Homo sapiens: one gene and its partner. The protein of the gene in region 2 interacts with the protein of the main gene of each other region in a biochemical or structural test. Each region holds a gene or a part of one and is shown on either strand. Other genes may lie near its edges.

The links. Proteins that work in one complex are often made in the same cells at the same time.
Region 1: the proteins of SELL (region 2) and PODXL form a complex in vitro, tested with the Homo sapiens proteins (one large-scale study listed by IntAct).

The regions. Positions count from the first base shown.
Region 1 is NC_000007.14:131,550,097-131,553,750, forward strand, and holds part of PODXL (podocalyxin isoform 1 precursor), read right to left. Parts: intron 1-3,654. UniProt on the Homo sapiens protein: Involved in the regulation of both adhesion and cell morphology and cancer progression. Functions as an anti-adhesive molecule that maintains an open filtration pathway between neighboring foot processes in the podocyte by charge repulsion.
Region 2 is NC_000001.11:169,704,973-169,708,620, forward strand, and holds part of SELL (L-selectin precursor), read right to left. Parts: coding exon 3,445-3,648; intron 2,478-3,444; coding exon 2,370-2,477; intron 1-2,369. UniProt on the Homo sapiens protein: Calcium-dependent lectin that mediates cell adhesion by binding to glycoproteins on neighboring cells. Mediates the adherence of lymphocytes to endothelial cells of high endothelial venules in peripheral lymph nodes.

The DNA of each region.
Region 1 (3,654 bases), on a different chromosome or scaffold from region 2:
ATCCCGCAAACATTTCTTAACCACCTATTTGGCTAGAGGCTGTGGAAATGACAGGGGGTCCTCAGCCAGTGGGCCAGTGGCAAACACCGACATATTTAGGCACAATGCATGGTGGCCAGTGCTATGGCACAGTATTCCAGGCACCCTTAGGAGTCTAACTCTTAAATAGCAACATGGCCCCAAGCCTCAATTTACCCTTATGGTAGAGGGGTAGGGAAAGAGATGTGGGCACAGTATAGGTTTGTCACCATCCTAAAGTCCTTTTTAAAGAGGTTTTTCGCCAGGCATGATGGCTCATGCCTGTAATCCTAGCACTGGGAGGCTGAGGTGGGCAGATCACTCAAGGTTAGGCGTTCAAGACCAGCCTGGCCAACATGGTGAGACCCTATTTCTACAGAAATTAGCTGGGTGTGGTGGCGCATGCCTGTAGTCCCAGCTACTCAGGAGGCTGAGGCAGGAGGATGTCTTGAATCTGGGAGGCAGAGGTTGCAGCAAGCCACCTGCACTCCACCCTTGGCAACACAGCGAGATTCCATCTCAGAACAAAAAGAAGTAAAATAAAAAAATATATAAAGGGGATTTGGTGAGTTTTTCCAATTCCCAGGAGGGAATCAGCACTGAAAGGGCTGAGTTCTATTCTGGTATTTACAGCTGACACGTATGCGCACATGCACACACATACATGCACGCACACACACACACACGCACACACACGTGTGCACACCCACCTCCTGGAAAGCTATTTATTGAGAGTCACTGGGAACTTGGGCGAATGAACCCACCTCCCTGGCCTGCAATCCCCCATTTGAAACAAGCAGGTTGTAGTAGATGATTTCCAGAAGGCTCCCCAGCTCTAGAATTCTGTGTCCTATGATTTTCTGGCTCATTTAGAAGTGGTGTGGAAAGTACCCTTTGCCAACCGAATTCCACATTGCACAGCCTGCAGGCTGCCGACTCGAAGCAGTCATATGGCAAATGTTACTGCAAATATGAAGAGGCTCCTTTAAGGGATCCTCTGTGTCAATTTTCTTGAAGGCTTTTCTTATAGAGAATGCCCCCGTCATTTGGCCTGTGCAGGGTAGGAGTCACCATCCCAGATCTGCTACATCACTTGATTTCTTAACAGCCCCATAGAGCAGACAGGATACATGATAAAGAGAGGCCCATCCAACTTAGCCCATGTTCCTGGGTCCGGGACAGGAAACCCCACCAGCTGAGCTCCCTGCCCTGCTTCATGGCCAGTGGGTGCAAATAGGAAATGAGCCCAGAGCTGGGTAAAGAGCTCCTGGCTGAGGTCCAGTGAAAGTGTCCAGGCAGGCTCAGGCTGGTGGGTAGGGATGGGCAGGGCAATGCCATTCTCTTTCTCTGATTATGTAGGAATGACTTCCATTTCAGCTAGAGCAAAGCTTGCATTCAGCAGCCCTGAAGAGGGCCTCTGCCTCAAAGGGTGTGAAGAAGCAGCACTTCCTGGAATAGGGGTCATCTACGTCCCCTCCTGAGAAGTCCAGTGAACTGGAGACACGATTCCTCCCACTTCCCTTAAGAGTGAAGGGCTCTGAGCTGGGTGCGGTGGCTCATGCCTGTGATCCCAGCACTTTGGGAGGCTGAGGCGGGCGGATCATGAGGTCAGGAGATCGAGACCTTCCTGGCTAACATGGTGAATCCCCGTCCCTACTAAAAAATACAGAAAATTAGCCGGGCGTGGAGGTGGGCGCCTGTAGTCCTAGCTATTCGGGAGGCTGAGGCAGGAGAATGGCGTGAACCCGGGAGGTGGAGCTTGTAGTGAGCTGAGATCACGCCACTGCAGTCCAGCCTGGGTGACAGAACGAGACTCCATCTCAAAAAAAAAAAAAACAGTGAAGGGCTCTGAGCTAAGTGCTGAGCCAGCTCCACAGCAGCCACCAGCATCACAGGGGTCACCAGCCCCACAGAAGCCTTAACCTTCAGCAGTTGCTCCCACCAGCTCTAGCTGCTGGAGAACAAGCCCACTGGCCAGACATCCCTTCCCAGGATGCAAACTCCCCTTCCAGGGAGCCTAAAGCCAGGGCTGAAGCCGGTTCCCCTCAGTTCTACAGTCCAGAGTATCCCAAGCGACCGCTCAGCGCTGGGTGCTGGGCTGGGCCCTGGAGGTGGTGATAAGTATGTTGTTGGCCCCTCGAGGGCCTCACCGCATGGTGGAGGAGACACACAGATCATGGAACACACTTTGGTTCTCCCTAGGAAACCAGGGAAGGCATCTCAGAGATGATGCCTGAGGGTGGCTAGGAGTGGCTCTTCCCCTCCCTCCCTGCAAGGGGGGGAATTCTAACCACAGGGAGTCTAGTCCCCTTCCCCTCTCAGCTTTCCACAGGGCAGTGGTGTTAAAACCCCAGGCAGCACCCTCCTCTCCTTTCAAACATGGGTTCCTGAGGAAAACCAGATGGGGGACAGCCTCCATGCCTCTTCCCCCACCTTCTCTAGGCCTGGGGGACACCCTGAGGACCCTCCTGGGCAGGCCACGCTCCCCTCCTCAGCCCTTCTCTGGACGACCACACTCCAAAGCTCTGGCCACACTGACACCAGGTGCTTTTGGGTCTGCCCTTGAATGGCTGGGCTCCTAACCCCGCCATGTCCAGCTCGCTCCTGCCTCAGATCCTGTCCCAAGCTGCACCATGCTGGGAACACCCACATTCCCCCACCCCAGCCCTGGGCACCTTGTTTTTTTCCTTGAGTCAGGGTCTCCCTCTGTTGCCCAGGCTGGAGAGCAGTGGCGTGATCTTGGCTCACTGCAACCTCTGTCTCCCACGTTCAAGCAATTCTCCTACCTCAGTCTCCTGAGTAGCTGGGACTACAGGCGTGTGCCACTACCATGCCCAGCTAATTTTTTTGTCTTTTTAGTACAGTCTTACTAGGTTGCCCAGGCTGGTCTTGAACTCCTAGGCTCAAGTGATCCTCCCACCTTGGCCTCTCAAATTTGCTGGGATTCCAGGCGTGAGCAGCCACACCCTGCCACCGTGGAATTTTCTCTCCAGTTCTGAGAGCTAATCTCCCCAAAGCCTCAATGACTCCATCTCAAGAACCACCATCACAGACTCCCCGACCCTAATCTGCATCTCCCCTACACACTACAATTCATAGAGCCTCAGCCACATTAGGAAACACTGACCCTTTTAATTTTAAAATCCCTATGTGAAAACCCCACCTCCTTCAGGAAGCTTTCTCCAGACCTCCAGACCACCCCTTCCAAATCTTATACTCTTTTCCATATGCCTCCCTCTCCCACAGAGTGGCACTGGGGCTTCAGTTTTTATTATCATATATCCACTGATACCCACAAACATTGGCAGGATCCCAATGCCTGGGGTCCCTTAAACCCACCAGGTGCTCAATATATATGCTTACTAATCATCATAGCTATTTTTTGAGTGTTGATCCTGAGTTGGGCGTAAAGCCAAGCCCATGATATATATACTCGCTCATCTTCATAGCAACCCACAAGGTAGGGCTGTTATTACTTTATAGATGAAGAAACTGAGGTTCAGGGAGGTCCACTATTTTGTCCATGGTCATGCACATCTCTCTGACCCAAAGTCTGAGTGTTTCCACCCCACCAAGCTGCCTTTCTGTTGCCCAGAATTCATCCATTGAACATCAGATTGAGAGTACTGAATCAGC
Region 2 (3,648 bases):
ACCTTAGAACAAAGCCTGACTCATCAGAAATTCTAAGTAAACATTAGCTAGTCTTCATATTATTATCTTCAGCATTATCTGTAGTGAGAATCCTTAAAGCCAAATAGGTGTAACTGGGAATGACCAGCTTAGTCGGGAAATAACTATCACATCAGAGCCCCTGAGTCTACTAGAGTATTGGGAGCAAGATGTTCAGAGAAAGAGTGGGTCTCCATAATAAGCCTTCTTTGCAAGGAGAGAATATAAAAGTCTAGGAAGCATTTTGACCTCAATTCTGTCTTCTATTCTAGCTCAGTTCCAGAATTTTAACTCTTTTGATTTTGACAACCCTCTCCAGAAACTGTATCTATTTCCCTGTTCTGATTGGTGGTACAATAGGTAAATTTAAGACTTGGAAATCAAAGTTTTCACATTTTAGACCCTGCCATGCCATTTAGTAAACAGTACAACTTTCATGTCTTATTCCTCATCTGTCAAATTTAAGCCATTATTGCTACCTTGCTCTAGAGACTTCAAGGAAGAATGGACTCAAGGAATCAGAAGAATTTTTGTATTTGGAAACTATATGAGATGAGATTAGGGAGAAACATGGGAACTAAGAGAAAATGTTATCTTTTTTCATTGATTTAAAGAGTATCTATTATATATCAAGCATTACTCTGGGGCTTGAAGAGCTTAGATTTCACCCTGTAGGACAAAATGGTAGGTAGAAATTAATGGGTGGATTGTCATGTATGTGTGATGTGTTTTAATTGCTTTTAATTGATCAGTCTCCCTGTAGTATGAATAATGTATTTGAGGGGAGCTAATTTAAAATTGTGGAACTCATCTAATAAACTATTGCAAGAATCTAGAAGAAAGATAATGACGGCAATGGTAGTAGAGTTGACAAGTGGAAGACAAATTAGAAAAACACTAAGTTGTAAAAATTGGTAGAATGTTACCCTGCATAAATGTTGGGGGAGTTAAGAGAGTCTCATACCAGGGTGCCCATGTAAATGGTGATTCCACATACTGAGATAAGAAATACGAAGAGAAAAGCTGACTGGGAACAATTGGTTTTATAGTCTTTTAAACATCCCAAAGGACATCCTTAGCATATTTGAGTTCAGAGCTGGAGATAGGCTTATCAGTCCAAAGATCACATAGATTTGTGAGTCCGCAAAAGTCAGTAAGTTTGACCAAAGGATACATGTAGATTAGAGTCAGAAGAGCAATATACAAAAGACAAAAGCTGAGAAATTATAGTAGTTTATGGTCCTGGATAAGTGCTCATGAAGGATCTCAGGAGAAATGATCACAGGTAGAAAGAATGAGAAAAGAGTGATATGAGAGAAACCAAGACAAAGAAAAGTAAAATGTTAAAAATGAGTGAAATAGGCATACCAATAATTAAAAATGAGTAAAATAGGCATACCAATAACATAAGGGTTAAAAAATAGAGTTCAAAAATGGGGTGAGGGTAAAGTATTAGGAAGGAGTCATGGCCCAGGGATCAAGTGAAATGAGTTAGATCTATAGATCTATTTCAGTTGGTTGACATTTAAATGTATTTTGGTTTTAATTCTTTATTGTTTACAAACATTGCTTTTTTAAAAAATTAAATTGTCCAATTCAATTCAGGCTCACAAGCAAGTGCCTCATATATACAGGCATTTTGTGGATCCCAAAGATGCAATGATAAATAGGACACTTACTGATCTCAAGAAGTTTTCAGTACCAGAGGAGACGGACAAGTGAACAGATGACTTCAACATAAGTGGGAGAAATGAGGAAGAAATATGTGGAGCTATCAGAACTAAGAAAGCTTCCTAGAAGAAACTGTCTTTGAACAATGTCTTAAAGATGACATGTTTTTTGGCCATGTGCAAAATGAGAGAGAAGGCCACCAGCAAAGTCAGTGTGCTACAGAGCACATGTGTTAAGTGTGGAGAACTGCAAGAAGGAAAGGAACTACTAGAAGGAAAAAGCAAGATACTTTCTGGGTAACTCAGCCTCCTAATGATAAATGGCATAGTTTCTTCCAGACCTTAGAGTTCTAATTAATCTAACAAGCTCATTAGATCGTGAGCTTCTTGAGAGCGGGAATCTACCATGCTAATTCCTTATGGTAACCCTGACAGCTTTTATCCCAACACTGTGCTTCTTGTGGTACTCAAAAAGACTTGTTGAGAAGTGAGTCGAAACTTCATGCTGACTTATGAAATCTTTACGGAAAGGTAACAATATTGTGAAAGCAGAGCTTTCTGATCAAAACTTCCCATTTCTCAGAGTGGCTAGTATCATTTTGTTCCAACCAGCTTCATGATAAGCTATAATGATTCCTGTGACTTTACCTAAGAAGAAGCAAAGAAAGGAAAGAGACTTACCAAACTGACACTGGGGCCCATAGTACCCCACATCACAGTTGCAGGTGTAATTATTGATGATTTCTACACATTCTCCATGGCCACTGCATGACCAGGGCTGGCAAGAAGCTTTAAGGAGGTCAGAAAAAAAATATTTTAATGTGATTACATTTTAGTACTCAAAGTCATTTCTTTAGACATAGATAACCTTTTGTCTGAGATGATTTAAATAATCAGGAAAGGTTTATTTGTAAATTCATAGCATAAAAATCATATGCTAAAATTTTTACGTATAAAATACACTAAGCATATAGTCATAGGCATTTATTTGCTTTTGGAATGAAATTACCAATACTAATATTCTGTAACACTTATAGGAAACTTAGTGGCATACCTTGAAACTCTTGAAATTACTTGTTTTTAATGAGTGAGAAGGTTAAATGATGACCTGACCTCAATCATTTCTGCATGCAATTATTTCTTGGCAATCCCTTTCTTTATAGAAATCAAAGATTAAAAAGTCCAAATTTGCTAAAACGGTAGAGTCCAATTTATAAGAGACCAAATTAACTATGGTTCATTATTAAAACATCACTTGGAAAATGCTGGCTGTTTTGGAATTGTAGAAGATTTTACAGAAATATTCATACACCAAAGATAGTGCAATTTTTATATAAAATTATATAAGGTTAGACCAAGAAGGAAGCACGCAGCACCACACTCTCTACTTCACAATGTGAAAACTGAGGTGATGTGAGCCTAAGTTTCCAACTGGCCCCAGCTGTCAGCTTCTCCTCCCCTGCCTTATTATCAAAGGCACTGATTGTCTAGCTCTTCCTCTGTACTTCCTACGTAGATCTATCATTTTGATGTAACTTGATTTAGGGGTATAGCTTTTGTGCACAGGGACAAATCTTACACACCAAAAATTCTTAGGAGTGACACGATGCAAGATTATATAGAGGGCTAGATGTATTTTAGAATGAACCAGAAGCTGTTCTCATCCCCCCACCTTTCCATGGGGTAAATCTGAGTATTCTCTTAACCGTGGCCCTTCCTGAGTCTGAGGCAGCATAGCCGTCTTGTCACTCCCTACCTGTGTAACAGAGGGCTGCCTTTAGTTTGTGGCAGGCGTCATCGTTCCATTTGCCTGCATCTTTGTTTCTCTTGATATAGATCTCCACGCAGTCCTCCTTGTTCTTCTTGTTGTTGGGCTCACCATCTCCCCAGTTCTCTGCTTCTTCAGTAAGAGATTTGTTGGTTCCCACCCACGTCCATATTCCTCCTATCTTCCGGATTC